Linked DNA regions of Homo sapiens: region 2 is linked to region 1. The links come from fine-mapping of genetic effects on gene expression. A gene starts in region 1. The other region holds a variant in brackets. All regions are shown on one strand. Distances are from middle to middle. Region 1 holds the start of FBP1 (fructose-bisphosphatase 1). Region 2 overlaps FBP2 (fructose-bisphosphatase 2).

What was found. PIP is the estimated chance that this variant, and not a neighbour inherited with it, causes the effect. A credible set is the group of variants that fine-mapping cannot tell apart.
Region 2: its variant is the best candidate, but not a certain one, in a credible set for the expression of FBP1 in lung (TOPMed, PIP 0.57).

Annotation. Positions count from the first base shown.
Region 1 is chr9:94,633,432-94,645,532 of GRCh38, forward strand. FBP1 (fructose-bisphosphatase 1) reads right to left here and starts at 6,087. Exons shown (of 7, transcript NM_000507.4): 1 at 5,710-6,087. The coding sequence starts at 5,879. RefSeq lists a silencer at 6,161-6,220.
Region 2 is chr9:94,580,941-94,593,041 of GRCh38, forward strand. It overlaps FBP2 (fructose-bisphosphatase 2), which reads right to left. Exons shown (of 7, transcript NM_003837.4): 2 at 6,367-6,529; 3 at 3,637-3,729. Among named protein-coding and RNA genes, the nearest start is that of FBP2, 6.8 kb to the right of the region's middle. RefSeq lists enhancers at 6,571-7,072, 7,073-7,572, 10,351-10,893. The variant A/G (reference allele first, on the strand shown) is at 7,448.

The DNA of each region.
Region 1 (12,101 bases):
AAGTGTAAAGTGTTCACCCTTGCCATTTGATGCTTCCCCAATGTACCCACAATTTCACATCCACGAACGCCCTACCATGAGTACTCCATGCTTTGGTCAAATTGAGTGGGCAACTTTTCCAGAAACACTTTCCCACCTCAGGACTCCTCCCCCTGTGACCTCCAGCCTGAACTGCGGTCCAGCCGCCGGGCCTTTTGCTTCCCCTGCACGTGCCCATTCTTGGCGCTCCACAGTCCTTCACCATGAATCGTATTTTTGGCACCTCTATGAAAGCATCTTTCTTTTTTTTTTGAGACGGAGTCTCCCTATGTCGCCCAGGCTGGAGTGCAGTGGCGCGATCTCGGCTCACTGCAAGCTCCGCCTCCCAGATTCACAACATTCTCCTGCCTCAGCCTCCCAAGTAGCTGGGATTACAGGCGCCCGCCACCACGCCCGGCTAATTTTTTTGTATTTTTTGGTAGAGACGGGGTTTCACCGTGTTGGCCAGGATGGTCTCGATCTCCTGACCTCGTGATCCGCCCGACTCGGCCTCCCAAAGCGCTAGGATTACAGGCGTGAGCCACCGCGAAAGCATCTTTCAGACCGGGCGCAGTGGCTCACGCCTGTAATCCCAGGACTTTGGGAGGCCGGGGCGGGCAGATCACCTGAGGTCAGGAGTTTGAGACCAGCCTGACCAACATGGAGAAACCCCGTCTCTACTGAAAATACAAAAAAATTAGCTGGGCTTGGTGGTGGGCGCCTGTAATCCCAGCTATGGGAGGCTGAGGCAGGAGAATGGCATGAACCCGGGAGGCGGAGGTTGCAGTGAGCTGAGATCGCCCCACTGCACTCCAGCAAGGGCAACAGAGCGAGACTCTGCCTCAAAAAAAAAAAAAAGAAAGAAAAAGAAAGCATCTTTCAAAACCTCTATTGCGTGTTAGAACGATACAAATATTTTTTCCTACAGAGTAAACTCTGTGTTGTTCTCGTCTTCTGGAACTTTGTACATGGTGGATGTTCAGTAATATTTTGTTAATTGAATGAAATCAGTGAATTCTTCAGTCAGTGATTTGGAAATGGATACAAAGGGAAGTCAACTCCACAAAACAAAAAACCTGAAGCCACTGGAGCACCACTTTCTCCCAAAGGAATGCAAAGTGGACAACACTCGAATTTGACATTTGAACCACAACTTCATCAGCTTGACTTCAAGTTGCAGACTGTTCTGATCTGCACAGTTTCTCTCCCAAGAGTGGATGGAGGGAGCCAGAAGCCCAGAGGGAAGTCTCCCAGGGCACATTTGCCCAAAGCAATGACTCCTTGGTATCTAAGCCTGAATTCACATCAAAAATGTCGCCTGGCCAACATGGCTAAACCCTGTCTCTACTAAAAATACAAAAATTAGGCCGGGCGCAGTGGCTCACACTTCTAATCCCAGCACTTTGGGAGGCCGAGGCAGGTGGATCACTTGAGGCCAGTTCGACCCTGGTCAACTTGGCAAAATCCCATCTCTACTAAAAATACAAAAATTAGCCAGGTATGGTAGTGTACGCCTGTAATCTCAGCTACTCGGGAAATTGAGGCAGGAGAATCACTTGAACCCGGGAGGCAGAGGTTGCAGTAAGCTGAGATTGCACCACTGCACACCAGCCTGAGTGAGAGTGAGGCCCTGTCTCAAAAAAAAAAAAAAAAAAAAAAAACCAGTTAACTAATAGATGAGATTTAGAGTTTGGTGAATTCTAATTGATTTCTAAAAAATAAAGGAAGAGATGTGTAGTGTGGCCAAAAGACCTCCAATCCGGGGTTCCTGAGATCCCGGCCACAGGCCAAGTCATCTCATCTTCCTCGGTCTCAGGGTCCTCTTCTGTATGAGGAGGTGATAGACTAGCTGACTGTTGAGTCTCTTTCAGTCTAAAACTCAATGATTCCATGAACATTTTAACAGGAGCAATGAAAGTGACTACAATAGCAACTTTAGGTTACACCAGGCTCTGTGCTTAAACTCCTGATGTTTCCATAATGATCCTGGGTGAGCTCCCTAAACTGGCTCCAGTGAGGTTCCTGCAAATCTGCAATCACCCCGTCCCTCTGGGTACATGCTCTTCTAGGTCCGGTCTTCAGCACTAACAAGATCTTTGCAGGAATGCTGGTTTTTCTTTCTGGATTTCAATGCCTGGAATGAATGTAGGTTGGGGGCCTGGCTTGAGAATCATGCTACCTGCCTGATGACATGTGATACTGAAAATGGCCAAACGCTGAACTTCCCACAAGATCACCTCAGTGTCCAGCATCTAGTCCTGTCAGCTACCCCAACAACCAGGCATGCACACCAGTTCCAAGGGTACAGCACTGTAATACCCAAAGGCTAGTAAAAACCAAAGTGCCCCAAAATAGAGAAAAACTTCAATACCTCATGATGTGTGCAGGGGAGCAGCACACAGCAGTTAAAAGGAGGTAGATGTAGATGTCCCGATATTAATGGATGTTTCTTGAATAATGTTAAATAACAAAGCAAACTACAGAAATGTGTATTGTGATCCCATTTTGTCTGCTATTATAGGCATATGTAAATATGTGTTCATGTGTAAACTTATATGACTGTAAAAGAGTATCCGGAAAAATAAGCAGTAAATTATTTGCAGTGGATACCCCATGGGATATATATGGGGTGGGTTTCACTCTTCCCTTGAATTCTTTTGAATGGTTTAAATTTTTGTCAATGAGTGCAACATAGTATTTCTTTAAAACCTGGTATTCACAACTATCTAGTATAAAAGTACACATATTGGCCAGGCACAGTGGCTCATACCTGTAATCCCAGCATTTTGGGAGGCCAAGGTGGGCAGATCGCTTGAGCCCAGGAATTTGAGACCAGCCTGGGCAACATAACAAAACCCCATCTCTACAAAAACACAAAAATTATCCGGCATGGTGGCACATGCCTGTAGTCCCAGCTACAGGGGAGGCTGAGGTGGGAGCACCAATTCAGCCTGGGAGGTTGAGGCTGCAGTGAGCCATTATCACACCACTGCACTCCAGCCTGGGCAACAGAGTGCGACTCTATCTCAAAATAAATAAATAAATAAAACGCATACCTTACGTAGCCAAAATTAACATGCTTCATCCAGGCCCCACCATCAAAATCTCACTATCCAAGGTCCCACTGTCTAAGGTTACTTAGACAGTGGGACACCTCAAAACACATCTTACATTTCTCAGTCTCTCTAGGGGTGTGAAAGGTACTGACACATTTTTTAAACAATATCAGACATGACAAGCCCTTTTTTTTCTTTTTTTGAGACAGAGTCTTACTCGGTCGCCAGGCTGGAGTAGAGTGGCACGATCTGGGCTCACTGCAACCTCCGCCTCCCGGGTTCAAGCAATTCTCCTGCCTCAGCCTCCCAAGTAGCTGGGATTACAGGCGCCTGCCACCATGCCTGGCTAATTTTTGTGTTTTTAGTAGAGACAGGGTTTCACCATGTTGGCCAGGCTGGTCTCAAACACCTGGACTTTGAGTGATCTACCCGTCTCAGCCTCCCAAAGTGCTGGGATTACAGGTGTGAGCCACCACACCCAGTCGACAAGCCCTCTTTTTAAAATATATCCCTGGTCCTCAAAGGCAGTTAAAGCTGTGAGCCACCTATACTAGCTGTAAATTAAAGCTTAAGATTTCACCTGGGTATGTTTCTAAAATAAGAATCCTTAGGAATGTATTATTAAGAGGGGCCAGAGGCAACAGTAATGGAGTCATCACCTTCCTTAACATGTCTGCTTAATATTCAAAAATAAATGTGATCATACCACTCCTTTACATGAATTACCTCCACCAGTCCATACTGTGGGACCAAAGCCAGACAGCCTGCCAGTAAGAAAAGGAATCTAGATTGCAGGATGCGGGGCGGAGAAGAGTTTTTAAGAATGGAGAAATGCATTCCAAACCCAAGTAGCAGGGTTGTATTTGTTCAGGTCAGCTCTGAGCATCATGCGTCTTTTTTTTTTTTTTTTAAGACAAAGTCACGCTCTTGTCGCGCAGGCTGGAGTGCAATGATGCGATCTCGGCTCACTGCAACCTCTGCCTCCTGGGTTCAAGCAATTCTCCTTCCTCAGCCTCCCGAGTAGCTGGGATTACAGGCGCCTGCCACCACACCCAGCTAATTTTTGGTAGAGACGGGGTTTCACCATGTTGATCAGGTTGGTCTTGAACTCCTGACCTCAGGCAATCCACCTGTTTCGGCCTCCCAAAGTGCTGGGATGACAGGCTAGAGCCTACGCGCCCAGCCCATCATGTGTCATTTTTATAGTGTGCATAAGTGCGGGGAATGTTAGTAAAGTGTATGGACAATCTGAAAACCCAGTTACACTTCAGTTAAAAGTGTGGATCAGTTAGCTAGAAAATACCTGCGCACGGCGGCTCATGCCTGTAATCCCAGCACTTTGGGAGGCCAAGGCATCACCGGAGGTCGGGAGTTCGAGACCAGCCTGACCAACATGGAGAAACCCCGTTTCTACTAAAAAAAATTACAAAATTAGCTGGGCATGGTGGCACATGCCTGTAATCCCAGCTACTCGGGAGACTGAGGCAGGAGAATCGCTTGAACCTGGGAGGCAGAGGTTGCGGTGAGCCAAGATCGCACCATTGCACTCCAGCCTGGGCAACAAGAGCAAAATTCCATCTCAAAAAAAAAAAAAAAAAGAAAAGAAAAAGAAAATACCTGTGCACACCAACACAAACGAAAGGATGTTGTGTGACTTACAAAAAACCTCACAAGAAGGGGTCCTTTGAGTCTCCACTCCACTTGACCCCTTGCTACTCACAATGTGATGAGTAGACAAACAGTATCTGATGGGCAGCACCCACCACAGGAGAACTTCTTAGAAATGCAGAATCTCAGGACCTGTCCCAGAGCTATGGAAGGAGGGCACACATCTTACCAAGATCCCCAAATGATTCCTGTGCCCAGTGACGTTCGAGATGCACTCCATAGCGCATTCAGAACCATTCTACAAACCACTTTTGAGCTTTCCACTAATTGGGCAGAGGCTGCACACACCATCATTGCAAATCGATAGGGGTTTTGAAGCCCTGGGTGTTTCCTGTTTCTGGCACAGCATGGCAACTGTCCCAGCAAGGGGCAGCCCACGGGAGCTCCTTTGCACACAAGCCCTGCTGCTCCTAAAGGCTCTGGACACACAGGAGACCTCCCAGCCTGCTTGCGGGGGGGGCGGGGGGGACACTCGCTCCTAACAGGTCTTGTTTCAGGTCAGAGATAACTGGATTAGAAACCTGACTTGGGTCCCTAATTGCAGAAAGAGTGAAGGAGGACAAAGAAGAAATGGGGAAGGAAGGCACCTGAGCTAGCACTTTCCTGTCTGAGGCTAGGGCGGGTATGACGGGCAGGCCAGGTGCCCACACTTGGCCGGCTGAGAGGGGTACGAGGCAGGCTGCTCAGGGCAGAGAAGAGGAATGCAAGATGGAATCAGGTGTACACCTGTGAGACGGACCCCCAGGTGGGCCCCTCCAAGGTCAAGGGAGGAGATGAGGACTTGAGTGAGGCTGAGCCAGCTTCTGGAGAGAGGGGCTACCAGACAGAGAGCGAGAGAGGCGCTCAGACATCAGACGGACAGACAGAGGCTGACGGCAGGAGGCTCAGAGGGCCCAACGTCAGCCCGCCGGGCAGGCTCCCCAGGCAGACAGACAGGACGGGGCCCACCGCCCAAGGCCCGACTCACAGGTGCGCGATGCCCGCCTTGCGCACCGCCGAAGAGATGGCTTTGACTGCTGTGCAGAGCGAGTTGAGCAGCTGGGTCAACTCGCCCGTGCCGCGGGCCTTCCTGCCCTCCTCCATGACGAAGCGGGTCAGGGTGTTGACGTCCGTGTCGAAGGGCGCCTGGTCAGCCATGCTTGAACCGGGTAGAGCGCGGGGCTGCAGGTGCAAGCGGCAGGTGCGGGGCTGCAGGTGCGGGCGGCAAGAGAGGGCAGTAGGCACTGGCCGCAGGTGCGGAGCTGCAGGTGCGGGCGGCAGGTGCGGGCCGCGGGACCTGGCGGGAGGACTGACAGACCGACTGCCGCCCCGAGTGTCCGCAGCGCTCGTGGTGCAACTGGGCCAGGCCAGGCGCCGGCGGGTGAATCGCGGAAACCTTTAGACGCGGGTCGGCCCCCCGCCCCCGGGAACACTCTTGCGCCCCGCCTACCCCGCGGACCAGACCGCGGCTCCGCCTGCTTGGATCTTCAGACAAGGTCGGGGATCCTCCCTGCGGTCTCCCAACCCCCGCCCCCACGCGCCCTGCCGCCCCCTAGTCTTCCTGGGCTGTCGCCCCCCACACACACCCCTCCGTGCCCTCCACCCGCACTGTGGAGCGGGACTCGGGCCATCGGACTCTGCCAGAGAGAAAGCTATGACTGTTTCCTCCAAAATCATAAAACGGAAGTTCAGAAAGGTTAAGTAACTTGCTCAATGCCACCAGCTAGGCAGCGAAACCCGCAGCCAGTCCACATGGCCTGGCTTTAGCTCTGCAGCTCCTGCCCCGTGTGGCTGCCTGCCCCCGCCCCCTGCCCAAGCCCCGTCCACTCTGCCTGGCCTGTCACCTGGCCCTTCTGTCCCCGCTAGGAGACACAGAGTCCCCGTTTCTCACCCATCTGAGGGCCCACGTCTGAATCCTTAATCCAGGCCTCTTCTCAAGATTCCTAGAATTCGAGAGCTATTGAGTATTTGAATTTCCAAGATGTGAGTCTCGCCCGGAAGTTTCCCGGAAAACGGTCGCTGACACAGAGTCCTCGGCTACCACACAAAGGCCAGAGGGCTCCACCGCCCGCATCCTGACCCCCTGGTAGCCACAATGCTGCAATTGATGTGCTGATTCACGAAACAACACCTATTGAGCACCTGCTGTGCTGAACACTGTCCTACCTTCCAGGGGTGGAGCCTGATCCAAACAGACAAAACTCCTGCCCTTTTCGAGTGTACGTTTTCACAGAGAAACAGTAAAAATAAATATATAAACAATAGATTAGTTTGTTACATAAGCCATAAGTACCATAGAGAGAAACGAAATAGAAAAGGAAGACACGGAATGTGGAGGGGAGAAGAGGGTGAGCAGAGGCCTCAGTAAAAGCTTCTCTGAGAAAGGGATATGTGAGCAAAGAGGTGAAGGATGCAACGCGCCGGTGGAGATGGGAAGGAGAGCGGTTTCCTCACCGGGAGAGCCAGTGCACAGGCCCTGGGGTAGGAGACCATGTTTCAGGTTCAGGGAATGGCCAGGAGACCGGTGGAGCTGAAATAGAGCTAGCAAGGGTCAGAGGTGGAGGAGATAAGGCCAGCGGGAGGATGCAGAGGTGAGGTCTAGAGGGCCAAGTGAGGTTTGACTTTGACTAGGAGGAACCCACTGGAGAGTTTGGAGAAGAAGAGAGGCATGGTCTACCCTGTGTCTTCATACTGCGGCTACTGTGTGAAGATCAGACTGAAGACAGTGCCCTCCAGGTTACTAGGAGATAGTGAGCCAGGTGTTAGCAGTGGAGGTGGTGGATTCTGGACATATTTTGAAGGTAGAGCTGATGGGATTCGTTGACAGATGAGATATGTGAGAGACAGGAGTCTCGGATGATTCTAAGGTTTGAGGCCTGAGAAACTAGAAGAATGCAGTTGTCCTCGACTGCGATGGGGAACACCGAGAGGGGCGTGTGCTGGAGGCAGGACTGACAATTAGGAGCTAAGTGTGGGACCTGCTAAGTTTGAAATGCCTTCTAGACATCCAAGGCAATGTCAAATAGACAGATTTATGTATCTGGAGTTCAGAGGAGAGATCCATGCTGCAGGTATAAATTGGAAAAGCCAACTGGAAAAACCAACCAAAAACCAAGAGATGTGACATCCGGGAAGCCAGATGAAGAAGGTAAGTAAAGGCGGGCTGACCCATGTGCCAAGCGGTGTGGATGGGGCAGGCAGGACAAGCTCTGAAAATTGACTGCTGGATTCACCGTGGAGACCTGGGGTGCAGATTCCTGTGCCCAGGGTTGTCAGATGCGGCGGCGTTGAATGAAGGAAGGTGGTGGTACCACCAGGAAAGACAGCGACTGTCTCCTCAAAGCCCCAGAGGGGACTTAGATGCCTGGCAAAGAGAGTTGATCCTTTAAGGGTCTTATTTAACTCTTTGTTCCTCAGGCAACTTTTCAGGAAAAACCCTGTGTTAAAAAAAATAGTAAGAGAAATACATCCTTAAACATAAAAACTCAAATAGGCCCGGCTCACTGGCTCACACCTGTAATCCCAGCACTTCACTTTGGGAGGCCGAGGCGGGCAGATCACCTGAGGTTGGGAGCTCGAGACCAGCCTGACCAACATGGAGAAACCCCGTCTCTACTAAAAGTACAAAAATTAGCTGGGCATGGTGGTGCATGCCTGTAATTCCAGCTACTCAGGAGGCTGAGGCAGGAGAATCGCTTGAACCTGGGAGGCGGAGATTGCAGTGAGCAGAGATGGCACCATTGCAGTCCAGCCTGGGCATCAAGAACAAAACTCCATCTCAAAAAAAAAAAAAAAAAAGAAAAACAAACAAACTGGAGGCTGAGGCGGGCAGATCTTGAGGTCAGGAGTTCAAGACCAGCCTGGCCAACATGGTGAAACCCATCTCTACTAAAATAAAAAATTAGCCGGGCATGGTGGTGTGCACCTGTAATTCCAGCTACTCAGGAGGCTGAGGCAGGAGAATCGCTTGAACCCGGGAGACAGAAGTTGCAGTGAGTCAAGATCCTGCCGCTGCACTCCAGCCTGGGCAACAGAGCGAGATTCAATCTCAAAAAAAAAAAAAAGAACTGAAATGTGATGACTAGTATTTTTGGCATAGTAACTAGTTACTAGGGGAGAGCTAGAGCTAGTAACTAGGGGAGTGTGCCCCTTTACTTGCCAGACTCTCAGTCCCTCAGGATCTTGGATTGGCTAGGACCGTAAAAGTCATCTAGTCCAGCCAACCCTCATTGGACACCATCCCTGATAAGAGGTGAAGAGCTTGGGATCTGCATTAAGCAAACTTGTTTGAGTCCCAGCTCCAGCCCTCAGCAGCCAGAGATCTCGGACCAGTTACCTAATCTCTGTAAACCCAGTTTGTTCATCCATATAGTGGAATAATGGTTCCATCTGGCAGTGGTGTCATCGGGCTGAAATGAGATGGCATTGGCAGAGTGCTTAGCTCAGAGCTACACACAGGGGACACACTGAATACGTGGAGGAGACCCCTGTCTAGCTCAGTCACTTCTGCTTGTCACCCACGATGATGGGCAGCTCATTGCCTACAAGGCAAGCCATTCCCCTTGGGACTAGGCCACGTCGCATTGTGGTGAAGTGCACAGACTCTGGGGCTGCATGGCTTGGGTCCAAACCCTGGCCTGGCCACTTACTGGCTGTGCAAGCCTGTGCAATTGGCTAAACCTCACCAAGCAACCATTGGCTCATCTGTAAACTGGGGCTAATGATTGTAGCCACCTCATAGGGTTGCTGGGAGAATTATACAGGCAGTGCTGGTAGTGTTTAAGAACAGTGCCCAGCATGTAGTAAGTACACAGTATGTAAGTGTTTGCTTCGTTACATGGGTAGGGCCAACTGTTGTTTTCATGTGAACAGAAGCAAGAAAGTTCCCTGGCCATCAAAAGGGGCTAGAGGGATGTGGGAATTGGCAGCTGAGCCTGTATTTGCCTGGTGTGCAGTGATATCCCCTCCATCATATTGGTCGATTGTGACTCGCTCTTTTCTGGGTCAAGATGCATAAAGCCCATCACCCAGGTATTAGCAAGAGACAGAGGAAGGCGGCCACCTCACATGGGTTCCTGGCCTGTGGGTTGGGCCCCTCCCTCCTCCACCCACCACCCTCGCAGAGTTGCTTCTTGCCACATACTCCAACTTCACATGGGATTGCAGATTCAAGTGATGTGAGCAGTATTACCACATGTGTAACACTCGAAATCCTGCGAAGAATCAGTGCTCATGCATTTCCTCACCCAGCTCCCACGATGGGGTTATGTTGGAGGCGGGCAGTGGAGAAGTAACAGTGTGGACAGTCCCTGCCCCTACAACAGCCGCCCTCAACCCAGGGCTCCACTGCTTACTTTCCCCTCTGTGGGGGCGGTTAGTGCCACAGGAAAGAAAAACAGGCCAGGCACAGTGCACACACCTGTAATCCCAATGCTCTGGGTTGCCGAGGCAGACAGACCACTTGAGCCCAGGAATTTTAAAAGCGGCCTGGACAACATAAGGAAAACACTGTCTCTAAAAAAATTTAAAAATTACCCAGGAGTGGTGGCGCATGCCTGTAGTCTCAGCTACTGGAGAGGCTGAAGGAGGAGGATCACTTGAGCCCAAGAGGTCGAGGCTGCGGTGAGCCGTGATCACAGCACTGCACTCCAGCCTAGGCAATAGAGTGAGAGTGTGTCTCTAACAAAAACACAAAAAGAAAAACAAAAGCCAAGTGGTGTATGTGAGAGGGATTGCAGTAGCATGGTCCTTCCTTAAACACCTCCCCCAGCTCCTGTGGCCCCGGGGGCCTGGTGTGGAAACTAAACAGCAAACATCTATTTAGCACTTGCTAAGGGTGTGGCACTTGCCCAGGGCTTCAGAAGCAGCCTTTAATCAATCCAGAACCACTCTGGGGTGGCTTCTAATCAAACCCCTGTCTTTACAGATGAAGGGACTGAGGCTTTTCTTTCTTTTCCTTTTCTTTTCTTTTCTTTTTTTTTTTTTTGAGATAGAGTCTCACTCTGTCGTCCAGGCTGGAGTGCAGTGGCATGATCTCGGCTCACTGCAAGCTCCGCCTCCCAGGTTCACACCATTCTCCTGCCTCAGCCTCCTGAGTAGCTGGGACTACAGGCCCCCGCCACTTCGCCCAGCTAATTTTTTGTATTTTTAGTAGAGATGGGGTTTCACTGTGTTAGCCAGGATGGTCTCAATCTCCTGACCTCGTGATCCACCCACCTCAGCCTCCCAAAGTGCTGAGATTACAGGCGTGAGCCACTGTGCTTGGCCCAATTTTTGTATTTTTAGTAGAGATGGGATTTCACCATGTTGGTCAGGCTGGTCTCAAACTCCCAACCTCAGGTAATCTGCCCGCCTCGGCCTCCCAAAGGGCTGGAATTACAGATGTGAGCCACCACGCCCGGCCAACAAGGTCAAATAACCTGTCCAAGGCCTGCAGCCAGGCAGGAAGTGACAGAACAAAGACTCAAACCCTCATCTGTCTGATTCCAAACCCCATATTCCCACTGACTTGCTGGTTCTTTCCTAAGTGGCAGTTTCCCTCCACGTCATGCCTCCAGGGACAGGCAAGGCTCTGAGCCCGCCTACGGCAGCTCTCTGGACTCTAGAGCTATTTCTGGGCTCATGTTCATTCATTCTTTCACTCAACACATAGTTTTTGAACACCTGCTGTATGCCAAAACCATACCACACCCTGAGGTTGCAGTGGTGAACAGGACAGACACAGCTCAGTCCACTTTAGGTTTATATTCTTTGTGGGGGAGATAAGAAAAAAAATCATTTAACCAACAAAGACACAAAACTGTTTCAGGGAGCAGAGTGCTATGAAGACTGTAAAGCAGGATGAGGTAAAAACTCAAAGCCTTTCTTATGAAATGACTTTTGATCAGAGACTGAACAACAGAAAGGAATGGGGCAAATGAAGAGCTCATAGAGGAACATACAGAAGAACAAGCAAGGCTACGGCAGGTGCAAAGACCCTGGTGCATTCAAGGATCAGCTGGGAGAAGGCCAGTGTGGCCTGAAGGGCAAGTGAGGGAAGAACCACAGGAGATAAAGTTGGAAAGAGAGACGAGGGCAGATTATGAAAGGCCTCACAGCAAGTCGCTCAGGTTCTATTCATGCAGCCAGAAGACAGGGGAGGCCAGGTGCAGTGGCTCACGCCTGTAATCCCAGCACTTTGGGAGGCCGAGGCAGGCGGATCACGAGGTCAGGAGATTGAGACTATCCTGGCTAACGTGGTGAAACCCCGTCTCTACTAAAAATACAAAAAAATTAGCCTGGCGTGGTGGCGGGCACCTGTAGTCCCAGCTACTTGGGAAGCTGAGGCAGGAGAATGGCATGAATCCGGGAGGCGGAGCTTGCAGTGAGCTGAGATCGCGC
Region 2 (12,101 bases), 52 kb before region 1:
GTGACAATCAAAGTCACCTGCTTTAATGAGACACAAGGACAGCCTTGTAGTCAAAACCAGTAAGATTAATTTATTAATTTTGCCTCTGTCTAAAGTAATATGATTTATTCTATGCCTTAATACCAAATAATTAAAATGCTTAACTACCTATAAGCCTCCTTTCCTGTCATTCTCAGAACTAGGCTGGGCTTATGATACTTTAAAACATTACTAATTCTTTGTATTTTGTTTTACCTCCAGAATTGAAACTATTCAATCCCCCAGGCCTAAAGACTATAGTGGAAGAAGTGAGCGTCTGACATAGTAAGGGCCAGTCTTATGGGATCAAATTAATTCAGAGCCTCCAAATCCAGGACGGACACAGAGAGGCTTCAACAGCTGAACAAAAGGCTTGTGTTTTGTGCAGCTAAGTGCTACTAGCCAAGCTCACAGTAGCTCGATGTATAGATTTGTAGATAAGTCAATTTTGGAAGCTTGCCTTTTGGCTTTGGGTTTTTGGCTTTTACATTGCTTAAAAGGGGTTTTAAGGTTAATGAATGCCTGGCCACCTCCATTCCCATCTGGCCTGGAACATTTAACTGGCTTCCACTGTTTTGACTCTAAGTCCCTGGGCCATAGGGGTCCCATCGAGGAACATCATGGACCCTGGGAAGGTAACCATACCACCCCAGCATCCACATGGGACAAAATAAAAGCTTGGCCATCAATACTGCCCCCGGAATACCTTGACAAAAAAGGGAGAATATAAACTAAAATAAAATCCTAAGCCTCTCAACAGACTGAATGGACCTGCCTCTTGGCCGAAGGAAATCCCCAGATAAACTGAAAAACAAGTTCAGGCCATGGCAGGAAGCGGGATCAGACAGGCCTCCCTATACCTTCCCCCACTTTTTGGAATTAGGCACAACTGAAAACCCTAAGATTGACAAAATAGGCTGTTTGTCACAATAAAATACCCAATTAGAAACGGGACCTAAGGCCACGCCAGGCAAGGGTTAGTCACTCACTCCTATTTTGAAGAGGAAACCATGTCCTAACTGCCATAGGTTTTTCTTTTTCTCTAGCAGCCAAACAAGCGCTGGCCTTAAGATCAGCTGACTAACTCACCCCCAGGCTCTTGTTCCACCAGCCAAGACTACAGCTTTAATTAGACAAAAGACTAAATTTCAGTAGCTCTCCTGATAAAAGACCACCAACCATGGGCTAGGTCTGGCCAGTTTACAGAAAGCACACACTGTGTGCCTTTATGTCCTAGAAAGATCTTTTGATATACAGGACCTAAATGGAATACATTCCACCCCAAAATAAACATGGGTCATACATGCATATTTATTCAATACACATATGTCAGGACCATCTTCATAAATATTCATAGCTCCTCCTATAATCTGTTAAATATGTGTGTGTGTGCGTGTGTGTGTGTGTGTGTGTGTGTGTGTGTGTGTGTATAGTTTGTTTGTTTTGAGAGGGAGTCTTGCTCTGTTGCCCAGGCTGGAGTGCAGCAGTGCAATCTCAACTCACTATAACTTCCACCTCCAGGTTCAAGCAATTCTCATGTCTCAGCCGAGTAGCTGGGACCACAGTCACATGCCACCACTCTTGGCTAATTTTTTTTTTTTTTTTTTGAGACGGAGTCTCGCTCTGTCACCCAGGCTAGAGTGCAGTGGCGCGATCTTGGCTCACTACAAGCTCTGCCTCCTGGGTTCACGCCATTCTCCTGCCTCAGCCTCCCAAGTAGCTGGGACTACAGGCACCCACCACCACGCCCGGCTAATTTTTTTGTATTTTTAGTAGAGGCAGGGTTTCACCATGTTAGCCAGGATGGTCTCGATCTCCTGACCTCGTGATTCGCCCGCCTCGGCCTCCCAAATTGCTGGGATTACAGGCATGAGCCACCCTTCCCAGCCCCCTTTTTTTTTTTTTTTTTTTTTGAGACACAGTTTCACTCTTGTTGCCCAGGCTGGAGTGCAATGGCGCAATCTCAGCTCACTGCAACCTCTGCCCCCGGGTTCAAGCAATTCTCCTGTCTCAGCCTCCTGAGTAGCAGGGATTATAGGCGCCCGCCACTATGCCCAGCTAATTTTTGGTATTTTTAGTAGAGATGGAGTTTCACCATGTTGGCCAGGCTGGTCTCAAACTCCTGACCTCAGGTGATCCACCCACCTCAGCCTCCCAAAATGCTGGGATTACAGGCATGAGCCACCATGCCCAGCCTGTTAAATATGTATATTTTGCCAACCTGTTGTCAAGCCCCACAGGAACCCCAAATATAATTGACAGTGGGGACCATGAAGTATAAGTAAAACTAAGTGCTGTACATACTTCCTGAATAATGCCCAAAACATACCCTCAGCCCCACAAGACACAGAAAAGCAAACTGCTACTATGTCTTAATCCCACAATGTCTTTAAATCATATGGCTTTAGATATCCTAACTACAACCCAAGGCAACACTTGTGCATGAATTAAGGCTGAGAATTAGATATCTACCAGATTATTCTCACAATATAACCCAAACTATACAGGCCTTAAATACTCATATTTCTGCCATAGATTCCCTATCTCAAGACTCTGTAAGAGCACGGTTTAATCAACTTCCTAATACATAGAAGACTCTCAAATACAATGTAACTGGCACTCTGCTTATTTTTCTCTTTGGTTGCTATGGATTGTTTGTTTGAGAGAGTCTTGCTCTGTCACCCAGGCTGGAGTGCAGTGGCATGATCTCAGCTCACTGCAACCTGCACTTCCTGGGTTCAAGCAATTCTCTTGCCTCAGCCTCCTGAGTAGCTGGAATTACAGGCGTGCACCATCACCCTGGCTAATTTTTGTATTTTTAGTAGAGACGGGGTTTCACCATGTTTCCCAGACTGGTCTCGACCACCTAGCCTCAAGGCCTCAAGTGATCCGCCCGCCTCAGCCTCCCAAAGTTCTGGGATTACAGGCGTGAGCCACCGCAGCTGGCGAGGTTGCTATGGATTTTATTGCCGTTGTACACTTTATATAGAATGAAGGACAAGTTTTCTGAATTGTGAAGTTTCTAGTCCTGCTGGATGTCACAAACCCACCCAGCTCTCTGTTGCTAGGATTTCAGGGTAGGCAGAATGGCCCAAAAGATATGCCAGTCCCCAGGATCTGTGAATACCCAGCATTACATGGCAACAAAGACTTTTCAGGTGTACTCAGGGGTTCAGATTTCAAATAGGGAGATCACCGTGGACCTTCCAGGTTAGATTAGTTCAATCTAATCCAATGAGCGTTAGCAGAAAACTTTCTGTGGCTGGGGACAGGAGAGATGAGGCAAGAGGGGGAGAGGATGTCAGAGATTCAGAATGCCACCTGGAACCTAATGCCATGTCTGACATTTGTGTTGCACCCAGACTTTCAAAACAAGATCTCAGCTGTCCTTCTGTGTTACCCTCCCAGGAATGCCAGAAAGTAGGCAGAGAAAGAATCGCCAATCCAGTTCTTCTAATGAGGAGCCCCAGGCAGAGAAAAGTTGGTGGTTTGCCTACAGTGGCTTTTCTCGTTAGTGGGAAGACAAAGGGTAGGACTCCAAACACACGGTTTTCAGCCCAGGAACCTTCCAGAGACCACCACAGGAAGGAGGTGTAAAATGTCAGCCTGTCTACTCACCTTTCTATAGATGGCAAAGATGGTTCCGATGGAGGCCAGGCAGTCAATATTGGAAGATCCATCCAGTGGGTCAAAGCAGACCACGTATTTCCCCTAAATCAGAGAGGAAAGCACCAACTGATCAGCACATCTTCCCATTAGCACAATTGCTCTGTGTCAGGGCTGTGCGTGGCAGAGTACACCACATCAAAAAGAGATTGAGAACCACAGCATATCTTTATCAAAAAACACCATGACTTACGGAGGGCAGGGTGCCAGTTTATACACAAATACTCCTCTGGGTTTTGTATCCATCTCACCTGTCTGATGCGAAGACCAGAAGATAAAGTGGGTGTGTCTTGAGAGACCAACGTCCCCCACACCCACCCACTCTGCTGTCACAGGCAGCTCAAGCCACCAAGGGAAGCCCCAGGTCCTTTTTATAGCCCCCTGTGTGCAAGGTCACGAGAGACCCTTAGTGATGGCGACCGGAACCCCCAGGCCAATTAAACACGGGTAATGCAACTTCAAGAGAAATGAGGGTCATTTCTCCCTCCACTTGATTTAGTTTTCCCTGACTTTCCAATGAGTATTGGCCTAGCTTCATTTGAGCTTTGTTTCTGTTTTTTTTCCTTGCTCAGCCAGAGTAGAAAAGTTAGATAATTTGTAAACTTGGAAATTCCCCAACATCTCTATAATAATCCAATTTTTTAAAAAAAAATCCAATTTAGCCCATTCATTCATGCATGCATGCATTCAGCAGATACATGTTGAGCTTCCAGCATATGCTGGGAAGTAAGTGTTCAAGGCCCTGGGGTTTGTTTCCGGGGGGTCAGCGATCCCGGCAGCAAGGCTGGATTTCATGGCACTGACATTCCAGTGGGAGAACAGACAGAGAGCACACAGGTCAGGACACATACAAGCAGGCTGTGGCACGTGCCCTAACGAAAACCCACATAGGCTGGGGGCTGGAGAGCCATGAGGGGGGGTCACATTTGATGACAGACCTGACTAGAATTAAGGAATGAAGAAACACACAGAGACCTAGAAAGCAAAATTGTTTGTTTTCTTGTTTTTGTTTTGTTTTGACAGAGTCTCACTCTGTTGCCCAGGATGGAGTGCAGTGGTGTGGTCAGAGCTCGCTGCAGCCTAGAGATCCTGGGCTCAAGCAATCCTCCCACCTCAGACTCCCAAGTAGCTGGGACTACAGGTGCACACCACCATGCCGAGCTAAATTTTTATCTTTTGTATCTTTATGTTGCCTAGGCTGGTCTCAAACTCCTGAGCTCAAGCAATTCTCCCACCTCAGACTCCCGAGTAGCTGGGACTACAGGTGCACACCACCATGCCGAGCTAAATTTTTATCTTTTGTATCTTTATGTTGCCTAGGCTGGTCTCAAACTCCTGAGCTCAAGCAATCCTCCCACCTCAGCCTCCCAAAGCACCGGGATTGCAGGCGTGAGCCACCGCGCCCATCCTAGAAAGAAGAATTTTCGACAGAGAGATCAGCAGGTTTGGAGTATTCAAGAGCTGCCACGGGCCAGGCATGGTGGCTCACGCCTGTAATCCCAGCACTTTGGGAGCCTGAGGCGGGTGGATCACCTGAGGTCAGAGTTCAAGACCAGCCTGGCCAACATGGCGAAACCCCGTCTCTACTAAAAACACAAAAATTAGCGGGGCATGGTGGCGCATGCCTGTAATCCCAGCTACTCAGGAGGCTGAGGCGGGAGAATTGCTTGAACCCGGGAGGCAGAGGTTACAGTGAGCTGAGATTGCGCCATTGCACTCCAGCCTGTCCAGCCGGGCAGTAGAGCAAGACTCCGTCTCAAAAAAATAAATAAATAAGTAAATAAATAAATAAAGGAACTGACATGAAGACCTATGTGGCTATGTGGCTTAGGCCAATAGGAGAAGACAATGGTAGATCAGACTGGAGAGAGAAACAAGAGTCATATCAACTGAAACTGAAAGTTGGAAGTAATAGTGTGATGTAGCTAAAATTATGTGAGACGAGGGCAAAAGTGCCTTTTGCAGTACCTGGCATAGAGCAGAGGTTAAATAAATTTGGCTTTACTTTAAATTCTTTTCCATTCCTCCAGCTAATCACAAAGAAATGGCCTCTTGTCTATTGACTATATTGCAGCTGAACATTGATTGAAACTTTTGGCCATTGGCAAACCTCTCTGTATAATAAGCTGTGTGTGAACCCATAGTGAATGCAGACCCTCCCCAGCCGTGCCTTCCTTCACCGACTTCACCATCCTACGAGGTAAGAGCACAGGAGGCTTGTGGTTTTGTTTCTGGACCAGTCTAACAGCTTGTCAGGCACTAAGAAATCTCTGCTGAAACTGTAACCCCTCGCAAAGTGCCGGCTGGGGGCGGGGGTGGAATGAGAAGGCGGGGCGGTGAGAGGCTGTACAGTACAGCTCTTCCCTGGACTCCACAAGGTTAAGCCCCCAAAAATTTGGCTCTTGTTACTGATTAAGTGAACAGCCACGAACAAGCGCCCACTGAGGCGGTTCCTGCATCACTCTGAACAATTTCCTGAATGAATCACTGTCCTACTGTGGAGTCTTCTTTCTCTAGACAGCACAAGATTTCCAAGTAGAGAAGTATGTAATCCTTTGTTTCCAGAAAACAAATGTTAAGAAATAGAGGAGAATCCCGGGAATTAAAGAAAAGTAAGGCAGCTTATTTCCGGCTCAGTATCATCATCTACTGGCGAGCGGGCACCGCAGCCCCATGACGCACCCGCTTCTCCTTGGCGGTGATGATGGCGTCCTTATTCTCTTCTGAGACCAGGACGCAGGTACTATAGGAGGATTGGACCATGTTGATCACCAGGGAATTGGATAGCACATCCAGTTTCTTCACCTCATCTCCCGTCACGTTAACGCTTCCTGCGATTCCATACCTGAGAAGACAAAAGGCTGAATGAGGAAGTCACTAGGGGGTCTTAACTCCAGCAAAGAGCCTGGGACCCTAAAACGCCAGCAGTGCAGTCCCCTCTCGTTCTGTGTCTCTGGAGTCTCCAAGTCACACGTGCAGAAGAAGGCGATTATGCCTGGCAGGATACCTCTCAGCCTTGCCTCCCTTACACCTTGGAGTCGTTGTCATATTTTCTTAGCCTTCCAATGAGATGACCCAGGACTCAGTCTCACTAAAACACAAACCCAGTCTCAGCACGAGGAGATGGAGCAGATGGGGGGACTCATCAAATCAGACCCATTGCCATAACTGAGGACTCCAAAAGTAAAGGACTGTGGCCTCCAGCTCCTGGAATTTGTTTTTTCTTTTTTCCTTTTTTTTTTGAAACGGAGTCTTGCTCTGTCGCCCAGGCTGGAGTGCAGTGGCACGAACTCTGCTCACTGCAAGCTCCGCCTCCTGGGCTCACGCCGTTCTCCTGCCTCAGCCTCCGGAGTAGCTGGGACTACAGGCGCCCGCCACCACGCCCGGCTAATTTTTTTCTGTATTTTTAGTAGAGACGGGGTTTCACCATGTTAGCCAGGATGGTCTTGATCTCCTGACCTGGTGATCCACCCGCCTCAGCCTCCCAAAGTGCTGGGATTACAGGCATGAGCCACCATGCCCGGCCAAGCCCTGGAATTTCAAGTCTTTGTGGATTGTCCTCACACAGTGCCCTGCTGGAATGAATTAAAATTGCCCTGTGGTAGCTTGGTGTTACTTGAACTGAGAAGGAAATGTGGGGGCAGACTTATTTCATTTTTTTCTTCACTGCCATCCCAAGCAGTATAAGAGAGTGCTACTACGAGAATTCTATGCCAGTCAGGGCCAGGGCCTCGTGCCTGTAATCCCAGCACTGTGGGAGGCC[A/G]AGGCGTGTAGGTCGCTTGAGCCCAGGAGTTCAAGACCAGTCTGGGCAACACAGTGAGACCCTGTCTTTACAAAAAAATACAAAAATTAGCTGGATGTGGTGGCACACACCTGTAGTCCCAGCTACTTTGGAGGCTGAGATGAAAGGATCATCTAAGCCTGGGGAGGTGGAGGTTGCAGTGAGCTGTGATCACGCCACTGCACTGCAGCCTGAGCGATGGAGGGAGACCCTCAAAATAATTCTATCTAGAGGCTTTGGGTTTTAGAGCATTCATATGCAAAGGTCTCCCCACTTCCACCCTCGCCCCTTCAGGGGGTTCTCAACACACCAGCAGGAGGGGTCCTCCTAAAGTGCCCCCAGTCTTACCCAGAGGCAAAATCCAAGTCCCCGCAAGTGGGTGTCAGGCACCACCGTGGAATCTCTGCGCCCGGGTTGGCATGGCTGCCCGTCTCTCTCATCCTCACAGGGTCAGCCCCAGCCTCTGAAACCTCCAAGGCACACACCTGCCTTGTGACTGACTGCCCAGTGGCCTTGCTGCCCCACCTGGGACACTCTTCCTCAAGAGCCATGTGACGGCCACCCCAGTCAAGCTTTGGCTCAAGGATCATCTCTCAGTAGTGCCTTCTCTGGCCGTCTGTTTGGAGCAGCATTCCCTGGTCCCCAACATCTTACTCGATGCATTTTCTCCTCTGCCCTGACCACCATCTAGGTCCTGTTTATTGTCTGTGAGCTTCCACAATGGCAGGATTTTTTTTTCCATTCTGAGGGAAGCCGTATCCTTCATGTGTCCACCCTGCACCACTACAGCAAGGCTCAGCCACCCCGCCACCCTCTCACGTTCCAACAGCCGCAGATGTCCCTGGGCCAGCACCCAGCAAGCGGCTCTGGTCCTTCTCGCCTTCACTAATGGTGTTCCCACCACAGCAGTGCTCTCTGCCCGGCTTTCTTCCTGCTATTCCTCCTTTTCCTCTCTGGGACGCCTCCCTGGTCCTCTCAAGTGGGCCCCACACACCAGAAACACCCCATCATCCCTCCTCAGTGTTCACCACACTCACGGACTGGCTTCCTGCTGCATGACCTGCTTGCAGAGGGCAGGATCCATCCTTCTGTCTGTTTCTGCAGTGCCCAGACACACAGCCCATGCTCCATGTCTGCTCACTGAGTTATGAGGAAAGGATGGCAAGAAAGGAATTTCCTTTGCCTACTGATGTGAATGCTATTTATTTGTTGAAGGAAATCTCAGGTGGTTCTAACAGGTAGCCAGGGTTGAGAACCACTGATCTACCTTAAGCTGGGGGCAAACTCATTTCCCACCCTCTTCCCTGAACAGCACCCCCACCTCACCCCCCAACACCAACCCCCACCCACAGCACATCATTTGGTGTCTGAGGAACCATGACGTGAGCAGTCAGCTGTCTTGGAAAACACTCCTAGCAGCCTCACCCCAAAGACTGTGCCTCCTGGTCAAGACAAAAGCAAGCAAGCAACAGCAGCAACAAAACTAGGCTGACTGCATCTGAGTTTCAGGGGACCACAAACACAGGCCTTGGTTCGATATGGAATCTGAATGCGCTTGCCACTGGAGGATGAACAGCAGGCCCAGGCCTGCGGTGGGCAGAGCTGAGAAACAGCCTCTGTCCTGCGCTTTGCAAATGCCCCCTCATCCGCCTAACCCCACCCCTCAGCCGACCCCCTGCACCCTCTCTCCAGGCACTGGGCAGCACCCCTCCTCCTAGAAAGAATGGAAACTCACCAGGAGATGTGAGTTCCCGGCAATAGCTTCACCTGAGATGATGGGGGAAAGGGGCTCTCTAGCCCGTAGGACAGTATCTTGCAGTGTTCTGACTGACACTAAAGCTAACTAACAGTCTCTAAAGGAATGATCCCCCACGGCCATGAGAAAGCCAAGGAGAGGCTCCAGGCGGGCACTCCAGCCTCTCTTGTTCCCACCATAAGAAGAGGAAAGAGAAGGGGAAAAGGAGACTCTCATAACTTTTAAATTGCATTCACGGAGCCCTTGCTAGAAAGATCTCCCCAAAAGGAGCCAGGGGCTTGCGGTCCCCTGCCTGGGTGGTGGTGTGTCCGGAATTGGTAGGTTCTTGGTCTCACTGACTTCAAGAATGAAGCCGCGGACCCTCGCGGTGAGTGTTACAGCTCTTAAGGTGGCGCATCTGGAGTTGTTCGTTCCTCCCAGTGGGCTCGTGGTCTCACTGGGCTCAGAAGTGAAGCTGCAGATCTTCGCGGTGAGTGTTACAGATCATAAAAGCAGCGTGGACCCAAAGAGTGAGCAGCAGCAAGAGCGAAAGAACAAAGCCTCCACAGTGTGGAAAGAGACCCAAACGGGTTGCCGATGCTGGTTTAGGCAGCCTGCTTTTATTCTCTTATCTGGCCCACCCACATCCTGCTGATTGGTAGAGCCGAGTGGCCTGTTTTGTCAGGGCGCTGATTGGTGCGTTTACAATCCCTGAGCTACATACAAAGGTTCTCCACGTCCCCATCAGATTAGTTAGATACAGAGTTTCCACACACAGGTTCTCCAAGGCCCCACCAGAGCAGCTAGATACAGAGTGTCGATTGGTGCACTCACAAACCTTGAGCTAAACACAGGGTGCTGATTGGTGTATTTACAATCCCTGAGCTAGATATAAAGACTCTCCACGTCCCCACCAGACTCAGGAGCCCAGCTGGCTTCACCTAGTGGATCCCGCACCGGGGCTGCAGGTGGAGCTGCCTGCCAGTCCTGCGCCGTGCGCGCGCATTCCTCAGCCCTTGGGTGGTCGATGGGACTGAGCGCTGTGGAGCGGGGGGTGGCGCTCGTCGGGGAGGCTCGGGCCGCACAGGAGCCCATGGAGTGGATGGGAGGCTCAGGCATGGCGGGCTGCAGGTCCCGAGCCCTGCCCCGCGGGAAGGCACCTAAGGCCCAGCGAGAAATCGAGCGCAGCGCCAGTGGGCCAGCACTGCTGGGGGACTCAGTACACCCTCCGCAGCCACTGGCCCGGGTGCTAAGTCCCCCATTGCCGGGGGCCAGCAGGGCTGGCTGGCTGCTCGGAGTGCGGGCCCGCCAAGCCCACGCCCACCCGGAACTCCAGCTGGCCCGCAAGCGCCGCACGCAGCCCCAGTTCCCGCTCGCACCTCTCCCTCCACACCTCCCTGAAAGCTGAGGGAGTGGGCTCCAGCCTTGGCCAGCCCAGAAAGTGGCTCCCACAGTGCAGTGGGGGGCTGAAAGGCTCCTCAAATGCCGCCAGTGGTCATTGACGGCTCAGGCACAGGCAAATCTGGTCTGGGCTTGGAACCGCGGTAGTGACAGGCACTGTGCGTGTCTTACGGGGCCGGCACAGTTGAAATCGTCATCACATGCGCTCGCTAACTCTGCAACAACCCTAAGAGTTAGGGATGCTACTATACTCTCCATTTCACAAAGGGAATCTAAGGTCCTAGCAAGAGTAAATCACGCCCATTATCACACGGTAGGAAATGCCAAATTAATAAGCACCTCAATTATCCAGTTCCTAGGGCCACTTTGTCTCCTTGCTCAACCGCCATAAAGTCAGAGTTTTGCAGCAGATAAGCAAGACCCCTACCATGGCAGCCACTGCCTAGCCAAGAGCCCTGCACAGAGGGGGAGCCCAATTTATGTGGATGAATCACCCTGAGATGGACTCAGGCAACCGCATTGAGGATAGCAGGGTCCGCACAGGGAGAGGCAAAGTCCCTGTCTACCGTCACTCAGCAGGGCTGTCACCCACAGGAGCAGAACAGGGCACCGCCTGCCCTCACATTCTGGAAGGCGATTAAATGCAGAGCGTGGCTGTTATTGCCAAATGAGGTAAAAACAGAGCTGAAGCATCCACCCACAGGAAAAAAGCAAGGATAATGCACCGTTAACCTGGGTCCTGCTACTGGGTCACCACCCCTAAATAAATACAGTCTGTGGTGATCAAATGATAATTACATCTTGTAATCTAATGCTATCACTTTTTGTGTTAAAAGCACTTAATTGCTCAGAGTAAATATTTTAAATGATTGGACTTTGTTAGCTCCTCATTTTGAGTCTCTTTCATCCCCAAAATATGTGTTCCTTCAGCTCCTGAGAGGACCTCCCCTGGAATTACTACAAGGGAAGCCCAAAGAAAGCTGGGGTTTTGTTTGTTTGTTTGTATGTTTTGAGATGGAATCTCGTCCTGTCACCCAGGCTGGAGTGCAGTGGTACGATCTCGACTCACCGCAACCTCCATCTCCCAGGTTCAAGCGATTCTCCTGCCTCAGCCTCCCGAGTAGCCGGGACTACAGGCGCCCGCCACCACACCCAACTAATTTTTGTATTTTTAGTAGAGACAGGGTTTCAACATGTTGGCCAGGATGGTCTTGATCTCTTGACCTCATGATCCACCCACCTTGGCCTCCCAAAGTGCCAGGATTACAGACAGGAGCCACCGTGCCTGGCCACCGGATTCTTTTTATTACAGACTTAAACTGGACACTGGGCTGTGACCATCAGCAGTGTAATGTGAACCTGGCCTCATCTATGCTCGGATAAAGCACCAAAGAGAACCCTGTGGAAGAAACCTCTGCGCTCCCCTCCCAGGACTAGCACCTCCCGGCTTCCTGCACACCAAGTGGAGGTGAAGATAAAGAAAGAGTCACAGAGAAGAAA